Linked DNA regions of Homo sapiens. The protein of the gene in region 2 interacts with the protein of the main gene of each other region in a biochemical or structural test. Each region holds a gene or a part of one and is shown on either strand. Other genes may lie near its edges. The genes, in order: PC and GOT1.

Evidence for each region.
Region 1: the proteins of GOT1 (region 2) and PC form a complex in vitro, tested with the Homo sapiens proteins (one study listed by BioGRID).

Annotation. Positions count from the first base shown.
Region 1 is NC_000011.10:66,948,241-66,955,536, forward strand, and holds part of PC (pyruvate carboxylase, mitochondrial precursor), read right to left. Parts: intron 6,197-7,296; 5' UTR 6,009-6,196; intron 4,229-6,008; 5' UTR 4,190-4,228; intron 1-4,189. UniProt on the Homo sapiens protein: Pyruvate carboxylase catalyzes a 2-step reaction, involving the ATP-dependent carboxylation of the covalently attached biotin in the first step and the transfer of the carboxyl group to pyruvate in the second.
Region 2 is NC_000010.11:99,396,309-99,399,859, reverse strand, and holds the end of GOT1 (aspartate aminotransferase, cytoplasmic), read left to right. Parts: intron 1-2,173; coding exon 2,174-2,313; 3' UTR 2,314-2,990; downstream 2,991-3,551. UniProt on the Homo sapiens protein: Biosynthesis of L-glutamate from L-aspartate or L-cysteine. Important regulator of levels of glutamate, the major excitatory neurotransmitter of the vertebrate central nervous system. Acts as a scavenger of glutamate in brain neuroprotection.

The DNA.
Region 1 (7,296 bases), on a different chromosome or scaffold from region 2:
ACAAGCAACAACATGGACATATCTCAACATAATTATGCTGAGTAAAAGAAGGCAGAGAAAAAAGAATATATACTGTATGAGTCAATTTATGTGAAATTCCAGAAAATGGAAACTAACCTATAGTAACAGAAAGCAGTTCCATGGTTTCCTGAAGAGTGAGGAGGCAGAGGGAGGAATTCCAAAGGTGATGAATGTGTTCACTCTCTGGACTGCAGTGATGGTTTCACAAGGGTACACATATGTTAAAACTTACTAAACTGTATACTTTAAATATGTGCAACTTATTATATCTCAGTAATACTCCAATAAAGCTATTGTAAAAACTAAAATGTATCACGCCTGTAATCCCAGCACTTTGGGAGGCCAAGGCGGGCTGATTGCTTGAGCTCAGGAGTTCGAGATGAGCCTGGGCAATGTGGTGAAACCCCGTCTCCACAAAAAGTACAAAAATTAGCCGGGTGTGGTGGCTTGAACCTGTAGTCCCAGCTACTCAGGAGTCTGAAAAGGGAAGATCACCTGAGCCTAGGAGGTAGAGGTTGCAGTGAGCTGAGACTGTGCCACTGTACTCCAGCCTGAGTGACAGAATCAGACCGTCTCAAAATAAACAAAAATAAACAAACAAAACATAAAACGGTATAGGAAAGTTTAAGAAAAGTGTAATATTCAGCTTCATTTATTAGATTTACAAGAGTCATTTAGGTATTAGAGGGTTTTTTTAATCAGAAAAATGGAAGAATTATTATTATTATTTATTATTATTATTATTTTTTTGAGATGGAGTCTTGCTGTGTCGCCAGGCTGGAGTGCAGTGGCATAATCTCAGCTCACTGCAACCTCCGCCTCCCGGGTTCAAGCGATTCTCCTGCCTCAGCCTCCCAAGTAGCTGGGATTACAGGCGCGTGACCACCACACCCAGCTAATTTTTGTATTTTTAGTAGCGACAGGGTTTCACCATGTTGGCCAGGATGGTCTCAATCTCTTGACCTCGTGATCTGCCCGCCTTGGCCTCCCAAAGTGCTAGGATTACAGGCGTGAGCCACCCACCATGCCCGGCCAGAAGAATTATTAAAATAGTTAACTGAAGTTGAATATGATTTATAAGTTCAATTGAAACATTTCAGAAGTTTCATCAAATTTGCAAATGGGACCAAGCATTAATCAAAAAGCCCCCTAAGGCCGGGGCGGCGGCTCACGCCTGTAATCCCAGCACTTTGGGAGGCCGAGGCGGGCAGATCACTTGAGTCAGGAGTTCGAGACCAGCCTGACCAACATGAAGAAACCCCGCCTCTACTAAAAATACAAATTAGCCAGCATGGTGGCGGGCGCCTGTAATCCCAGCTACTCAGGAGGCTGAGGCAGAAGAATCGCTTGAACCAGGAGGCGGAGGTTGCAGTGAGCCGAGATCGCGACAGAGCGAGACTCCATCGCAAAAAAAATAAATAAATAAAAGCCCCCTGAAAGTGACTGTTAAAATGTCCTAGAATCGTAAATAGATCAGAAAGATTTATAGGCTACACTTATAAGCTAAACTTAAAAGACTGGCCCTTAAAATAACTAGGTTTCTGAATTCATAATTTTAACAAATTGAAAATCAATTGTTTTCGACCAAAGTAATTTCTGAATAATCTTTGCATTACATAAAAATCCAGGGGTAGGAGTGGGTGTGGCATCCAAACCTCCCTCAGACATGCCACGCACCAGTCACCCGAAACTCACCAAGTCGCTTAGTCTCTAGTCTCTCTGAACCTCTGGTTCCTCACACATTGCAAGAGACAAATATTTTCCAGAATAAATAATATACTTATTATTAATGATTTAATATTAATACATTTCACATTGATACACAGCATGTACATGAGAAGAGGCTCCAAAGCAGCATAAAGTGATGTGCAAACGTAATAAATGGGCAGCATGTGTCACTTCATAGTAACTGCAGCACTCAGTGACAGACAAGAGAAAGGTGACACACATCCCCAGAGACTAAGTATGACTCAGCATGGCCAGGTCGTGGAATTTTCCCAAAGCCTCGTTGTGATGTCATGGTGGATGTCATCAGGAAAGGAGCTGCCACAGAAGCAGTCAGGCCCTTCCACACACAGGCAGTGGAAATGTACTCCCAGCTGTCCCGTGCCCTCCCGGCCCCACCTCTTTCTCTGGCCTCGAGGCATATCAGGACAAGGAGGTAACACAAGAGTAGGAAACCCGAGGTAGTGCTGGGAGTACCTGGGGTAACGCCTTCAGGCATAACACTTAACAACACAACAAAGGGCCACATCCATGTCCCCCCAGGAGAAAGCTGAAGAGGAGGGGAGGGTGACAAGCTTAGACTACAGAGCCTTAGTCCCTAGGCAAAGCTCAAGTCAGCAGTGCCTTGGGAACTGAGGAGCCAAACAAGCTTTGACAAATTACATAACCTGGAAGAAGAGGTCCCTTCTTGGTGACTGATTTTCCCTCTCTATTGATGGATCTAAGGGAAGACATCAATAAAATATGGCAATTTTAAAAGAAGAATAAACAATGGGATCAGCATCTTGGATTCTGCTAAGCAGCCTTCTCTAGGCTTCAGTTTCTTCAGTTCCATAAGACAAGTGGTTTGGGGGGAACCTTCCCCAACATGCCCACCTCTCATTGTAGGGATGCAAGTAAGAGAAATAACATCCAACTCTAGCAGCCAAGAATAAGAGGACAGAGCAAGCAGAGAGAGAACAAGGGGGTGAAACTCGTGGAGGGTGGAGTTCTTCCACGTTACGGCCATTCCCACCATGAGCCCATTGCCCTTACTCAATGGTAGCACGCAGACGGCACCTGCTGGCCCAAGACCTAGCTCCAAGGGAGGACTGCGGGAAATCTCACACAGGAAACCAGCTCCTGCGTCATGAAGGGTCGTCAGAGGAAAACCCCCACATAATGGGTGGAAAACCGAGAAAAACTCCTATACCAAGGAATCCCCACTCAGCACTGGATATGAGCTCTGGAGAAAGTTGTCCCTGAGCCACAAAGTCCCCAAGGCCACAGCGGGCCTGAAGGGAAGAGCATTATTGTTGTCACAAATGCTGGGAGAGCACCTGGTTCCCTGGCTCGGCTGCTCCTGCAGACCAGCAGGGGGAGAGGGGACTGGACTAGCAGGGGACCGGCGGGAGGGCTGTGGAATTTAGGCTGAGGGGAGGCCACTGAATCTCCCAGGCACCTGCCACCATGGAAATCCATGTTGGGGGAACTGTAAAAGCAGTAGAGGCCGGACGCGCTGGCTCACACCTGTAATCCCAGCATCTGGGGAGGCCGAAGAGGGCGGATCACCTGAGGTCAGGAGTTCGAGACCAGCCTGACCAACATGGTAAAATCCCATCTCTACTAAAAATACAAAAATTAGGCCGGGCACAGTGGTTCATGCCTGTAATCCCAGCACTTTGAGGGGCTGAGGTGGGTGGATCACAAGATCAAGAGATTGAGACCATCCTGGCCAACATGGTAAAACCCCGTCTCTACTAAAAATACAAAAATTAGCTGGGCATGGCAGCACACACCTGTAGTCCCAGCTACTCGGGAGGCTGAGGCAGGAGAATTGCTTGAACCCAGGAGGCAGAGGTTGCAGTAAGCCGAGCTTGCGCCACTGCACTCCAGCCTGGCAACAGAGCAAGACTCCGTCTCAAAAAAAAAAAAGAAAAAAAAAAACTTAGCCAGGTGTGGTGGCACATGCCTGTAAAATGTGCAGGGGAAGAAGGGCAGGTCCCTTTTTCCCCGTTGTTACCGTGACTGGCAAAGGTTGAGCGTCACCCTCTGGAAACCCGTGTCAAGTGACTTTACAACCAGCTGGCAGAACCACCTCACACCACAGCTGCCTGCTCTCCATGCTGACTCAAGGGGTCTTCTCAGAGACGGCCCAGCCCCAGGGATTCTTCCTGCCCAGCTTCCCAAGCTGACCATACCCTTCCAGAACCAGGGCCTTCTGCTGAGGCTGGCCAGCTGCCAAATGGGGCCAGCAGGGAGCCAGATGTCACTTTCCTGTAAAAATCAGGAGCAACTGGAAACAGACAAGACTGCTTAAACGGATATTATCCACAAATCAGAGCGCAGCCTTTTTTTATTGATTGAGCTTAAGACCTGACATGCCAAACTGCTGGCATCCACAGCTGCTCCTGGTGAAGACCCCCATGCATCCCGCCAGCCTGGATTCAGGCACAGGACTTACCCTTAGTGTTTGGTCAGCTCTCCAGAAGGCAGACACTATCTAAAGCAAAAGAAAAAACAGCATTACCCTCATTGCTCCAGGAACTTCCCAGAGAAAACAGGAGTGGCAAGAACACCGATTTTAGAACCCAGAGAACTTTTTCAGTCTTGTTACCCGGGCTGGAGTGCAATGGCGCAATCCCGGCTCACTGCAACCTCTGCTTCCCGGATTCAAGCGATTCTCCTGCCTCAGCCTCCTGAGGTAGTTGGGATTACAGGCATGTGCCACCACGCCCAGCTAATTTGGTATTTTTAGTAGAGATGGGGGTTTCTCCATGTTGGTCAGGCTGGTCTCGAACTCCCGACCTCAGGTGATCCACCCACCTCGGCCTCCCAAAGTGCTGGGATTACAGGTGTGAGCCACCGCACCCGGCCAAGAACTGTTTCTTTGCTTCCACTGAGGGCACCAGGAGGGTACAGAGCTGGAAGCGCCAGCTGTGCTGTCCCACTGCCTGGACTGCACCTCTTGTTACTCTGACAGCCGCTCTGTAATCACTCAAAGTCTGTTTCCTCATCTGTAAAATGGGAATAATAACAATGCCCATCTCACAGCGTACTAGGGAATACCCAATGAGGCAGCACACGCACAGCAGTGGCACCATGCCTGGCACAGAGGACACACTGGGACGTTAACCGACAGGCTAGGTGGGAAGCGCTTAAGTAAAACCCTTTTCTGCCACCCACTACACATGAACAAGAAGTTCTAGAAACAGTTCGTTTTATCTGAAGTGCTTTCTCTTCCTGCCCACTCCGTCCAGCCTCAGGCCCGCTTTCTCTGCATCTCCGCAGAGCTGTCTCTAATCCTTCAGGAGCTCCCTCTGAATACTGGGAGTCTGGTTCTTCTCTCACTCCACAACTTGAAACTAATAAGGAGCTGTCTTACGTGACCTGAGATGTGTACTCTATTTCCTGGCTATTTCCTCAAATCCTTTCCTGCAGAGACCCCTCTCTGCCATAAGTAAGAGCCCACCTCGTGTTTATGCCCATGGGAGCCCACAGTTGGTATTGTGTAATCACTTTTCGGAGTTTTATTGACTGCTTATTTCCGAAAAAGCCACACCTACCCTAGCCACTAGTCAATGAACAGCAAAATGGAAAAACAGGCCAGCAAGCTCAAATCCCTGTTCAGAGAAAACCAGCTGCCTTGACAGATAACGTCAAGGCTGAAATTCAATGTCTGGGGCACTCAAGTCAATAAAATATTTATTGAGCACATGCCTTGCACAAGGAACTGTATGTACACTCAGGCCCTGCCCACAAAGTGCCAAAAAGCAAGTTGTTAGGGGCTGGTTAAAAGAAGCAAAAATGGGATGGCACGTGAGAGGGACTCCAGCAGTGAGCCACCTAGCCTGCCTGGCTGTGTTACTCTGGGCGTTATTTCACCTCTCTGAGTTTCACCTATGAGAGTCCGTCATTTGTAAGAGATGGATCTAATAGGACCTTCGTAATAGGATTGTTGTGATAATCACATTATGTGTATGTAAGGGGCTTAGCAAGGCCGTCACCACCACACAGTAGTTGACTTTTATTATTAATAACAATAAATCATTACTTATCATCATCGTTATGAAAAGAGAGCCCAGTCCAACTGAATAGATTTGGCAAGCCTTAATAAAGTCCTGTGTCTCGAAGAATAATTTAATTTTGACAGGACAAGATAAGAAGCAAGGCCCTGCAGAAAACAAAGTCAACAAGAACAAGAGCAGAGGGGGGACCGTGAGAAGTGAGTTTGGGGTAACAGTGACTAATCTCACTATGGGGGCTGACACAGAAGAGGGTACCTGCGGAGGCAAATGGAAGAAAGAGCCCAACAGGTGGAATCATATTAGAGAGTCTTGAACGCCAAGATGAAGCAAGCTTTTCATTCGGTAAGTAAGAGGAAATGGTTTATTCTTTTGGCCATTTCCCATCTTCCACCGTCAGGCCCGACTCCTTTGGCAAAGTGTCCACAGGTGAGACTAGAAGGCAGCTAAGAGAAAGAGAGGAAGGCACGGTCAGTCAGGCCCAGGTGAGGTTTCAGAGTGAGCAGGCAAAATGCCCTGCTGCTGTGAAGGAGGCCTCTGGGTGAGAAACCTGCCCCAAAGCAGGAACTTTCAGGATACAAGAAACGGGGCCCATTCAGATGGGGGCAGGACGATATTGGGAGGCAGCCAAAGAGAAGGCCATGCTCATCCTCAATGAAAATGTTGACCAGAGGCCGGGTGCAGTGGCTCACGCCTGTAATCCCAGCACTTTGGGAGGCCAAGGCAGGTGATCACCTGAAGTCAGGAGTTCGAGACCAGCCTGCCCAACATAGTGAAACCCCATCTCTACTAAAGATACAAAAATTAGCCAGGCAAAGGGTTGGTGCCTGTAATCCCAGCTACTCAGGAGGCTGAGGCAGGAGAATCACTTGAATCCGGGAGGCAGAGGCTGCAGTGAGCCAAGATGGTGCCACTGTACTGCAGCCTGGGCAACAAAACAAGACTCCGTCTCCAAAAAAAAAAAAACACAGAAAACGTTGACCTGAACGAGGCCTCCAGCCCATGCAGAAGGTGCCAGTGAGAAATGTGGATTGCCAGATTTACTGCCATACTGACCTTGGTGCTGGCCATCCCTGCCACCTCCAAAAGTAACTCCTTTCCGTATTCCCCATCTTGCACCCTTCTCTCCTCACTGGTTCCCAGTTTGACCCCTTTTCAACTAATTCACCCAAAACACTCATTAGGCACCTACTTGTTCCTGGCACTATTAGGTACTGAGAGGACAGAGGGAAGAGGGACACAGGGAACTGTGGCTTGGGATAAGAGTAGTGAATCTGAGGTCCTGCCCTGCCACTGGTCCCAGAGCCCCCATGAGTGGTGGTGGGAGGACAGGTACCTATCACAGTGCCTGGGGCACTGGAAGTGAGACCGGGTGAAAGCAAGGAGCAGGACAAAAAAGGGAAAAGGGCCTGGGGGACCTACTGTGGGCTACCAGGGACAACCTTCTAGGGGAGATCTTGGAGGTGAGGACTGGCACAGGGAACCGAGTCAGCCAGGCTGCAGCGGGCTTCAGTAGAAAGACAGAAGGCGTTATGACACATGAGGG
Region 2 (3,551 bases):
CTTTGCCCTCTGAAAGTTTGCTGGAAATCAGCTGACAAGAGGCAGATTAATAGGAGAAAAGGCATACAAATTTATTTATTTATTTTTGAGTCAGAGTCTCACTCTGTTGCCCAGGCTGGAGTGCGGCGTCACAATCATGGCTTACTGTAGCCTCAACCTCCCAGGCCCAAGCAATCCACCCACCTCAGCCTTCGTAGTACCTGGGACCACAGGTGTGTGCCACCATGCCCGGCTAATTTTTAAGATTTTTTTGTAGAGACAGGGTCTCCTTATGATGCCCAGGCTGGTCGTCAACTCCTGGGCTCAAGCAATCCTCCCTCCTCAGCCTCCCAAAGTACTTGGATTACAGGCATGAGCCACTGTGCCTGGCCAGCATGCAAATTTATTAACTTGCACAGGTGTCTTACAAAATAGAACTCAAATAAATGGCCAGATGATTGATGCTTTTATACCATCTTGGGGTTATAGAAAGAATGGGAGCTTGGAGCTTGCCAGAACAGATTATGGCAGGCAGAGAAGAGAAGGCCTGGTTAGCAAAGGTGGTCTTGTTATATTATGTAGATAAGACAGGTAGCAGCCCTCGGAGAAAATAGCGGTAAAGGTCTATTTCTTTTAGACCTTTAAAGGCATCACACTCTCAGTTAATCTCCCCTAGATCTGGACAAGGGAGGGCCTCAGAGAAAGCCTAGCTGCAGCCATGCAGATTTTCTCTACAGATACAGATCTCTCCCACAAAAGACAGCTTTGCAGGGCTACTTCTGTATGTAGGCCCTCTCAACAGCCATCTCAAAATATGTCAAAGTATATTTTGGGGTGAACTATTTTGGTTTCCTTCAAGGAGCACTGAGTCCAGGGTCCAGATTTTTCACTTCCTTAGAGAGGCACTGTAGCATCACGGGGGCAGTGTACAGCCCAGACTTGAAATCCTGCCTGAAAATCCCACATCCACCATTGACCAGCTGTGCAATCTCGGAAGGCCATTTAATGTCTTTATGGCCTATCTGTAAAATGGGCATGATAAAGTTATTATCAGGATGAACTAAGATGCAGTGCTTAGAACACTGCCTGGCACATAGTGTTTACTCCTCTGATTATGATGATTCTATTATTATTCCATTTCCTCAGGTTGGTGGTATCTTAAAGGTACTAATTACTTAAGCAATAATTCACTAAAATTCTTTTTTTTTTTGAGACAGAGTCTCACTCTGTCACCCAGGCTGGAGTGCAGTGGTGTGATCTCGGCTCACTGCAACTTCCTCCTCTTGGGTTTCAAGCAATTCTCCTGCCTCAGCCTCCTGAGTAGCTGGGACCATAGGCACATGCCACCACGCCTGGCTAATTTTTGTATTTTTAGTAGAGACTGGGTCTCAGCATGTTGGCCAGGCTGGTCTCAAACTTCTGACCTCAGGTAATCCACCAGCCTCAGCCTCCTGAAGTGCTGGGATCACAGGCGTGAACCACTGTGCCCAGCCAAATTCACTAAAATTCTATCAATGGATTTGCCAAATAGCAAAACTGCTTTAGAGACTGCTGTATAAAGGAAGTACAGGTAGTCTCTTCTTACCCACATGTGATGCATTTCTGAAAACATGGAAAAACTACTGCATCTGAGAGAAAGCTGAGAAATGAACAGAAGTCTGATGGTGCCAGGTCAGAGAGGTCTGTGTCATTTCTCAGCTCATTGGTTAATTCACACAGGATTGATCAGGTACCTCATGCATGGGGCCTTACCCAATGTATTGTAAAAATGAAATGTCAAAGGGAGGCTGCCGCGGGTACTCAATGCAAGTCCAGGTTAGGGAAGAACTAAAGGAAGCACTTCATAGCCAGCATTTCATATCGCTGTCCGTCTGATGGTTGTTTTTAGGTGATAGGGGTGTCCTGGTGGATATAATGTATAAGGCTTGGTTGGAAGGCAATCTCAGATTAAAATTCCCATCAGTAGTAGCCATATTGAATTTTCTGGGGATTCAAAGGTGAACTAGTAAGAGTACTTTCCAGAATCTAGTGAGCATATTTTTCTGTTTGTCAGTTGGACAAAATAGCGCCTTTTGTTTTGCTTCTCTCTGTTAAGGGGAAAGAAGTAAAGCTGTAATTGTCATATAATTGCTGAGCCTCCACTGCTTTAAGGATCCCCTCTGCTCTGATTATGTCTTCTTTTGGTTTTCAACAGCCAAGCAGGTTGAGTATCTGGTCAATGAAAAGCACATCTACCTGCTGCCAAGTGGTCGAATCAACGTGAGTGGCTTAACCACCAAAAATCTAGATTACGTGGCCACCTCCATCCATGAAGCAGTCACCAAAATCCAGTGAAGAAACACCACCCGTCCAGTACCACCAAAGTAGTTCTCTGTCATGTGTGTTCCCTGCCTGCACAAACCTACATGTACATACCATGGATTAGAGACACTTGCAGGACTGAAAGGCTGCTCTGGTGAGGCAGCCTCTGTTTAAACCGGCCCCACATGAAGAGAACATCCCTTGAGACGAATTTGGAGACTGGGATTAGAGCCTTTGGAGGTCAAAGCAAATTAAGATTTTTATTTAAGAATAAAAGAGTACTTTGATCATGAGACATAGGTATCTTGTCCCTCTCACTAAAAAGGAGTGTTGTGTGTGGCGGCCACGTGCTTCTATGTGGTGTTTGACTCTGTACAAATTCTAGTCCCAAAGATCAAGTTGTCTGAAGGAGCCAAAGTGTGAATGTGGGTGTCGGCTGCGGCATTAAATTCATCATCTCAACCCAGAGTGTCTGGTCTCCCTGCTCTTTCTGCATGGTTGTGTCCCTAGTCCTAAGCTTTGGTTCTTTAGGGTGACTGTGGTAAGAAGGATATTTAATCATGACATGCACGGACACGTACATATTTAACTGAAACAAGTTTTACCAAACAGTATTTACTCGTGATGTGCGTAGTGCATTCTGATATTTTTGAGCCATTCTATTGTGTTCTACTTCACCTAAAAAAATAAAATAAAAATGTTGATCAAGACATGGAGTTGATTTTATGACCACTAATGGGTTGTGACCCACAGTTTAAAATGAATGCTTTAGAGGGTTTTACTAGTGGCTAAAGGAAAAACTACAATGTGTTCTTACAGTATAGCTTCCTTCAGTGAACTCACCATATAACTCCCTGGTGATTTTGCGGGCTTGTCATTTGGAGGCCAGCTGTCTTATGTTACTTAAGAAACTGGACTTCTTGGACTGTGAGAGGAGATGACATCACTCAGGTTGATTATAGAACATCAGCCCGTTCCCTGCTGTCAGAGTCCCTCCTGGTTTATTGAAACAGAACCACAAAAACATACATCACAATTTCCAGAGTCCAAGGGCCGCTCCAAATGGCCATTTTGTAGAATTTGGTGGGGTTTGATGTTACTTAACACAAGAGGTCTATTAATTGGAGTTTTTAAGTATTTAAAGTTAATTCTTGTGATTTTAATAGGATCTGCCACTTTCTAGGACTCATTTGGGTTGTTAGAAAATCCTGCAGTCCTGAGGGATGACTGGGGCCTCAGAAGTCATCAAGTCCTGCCTCTCCGCCAGTGAA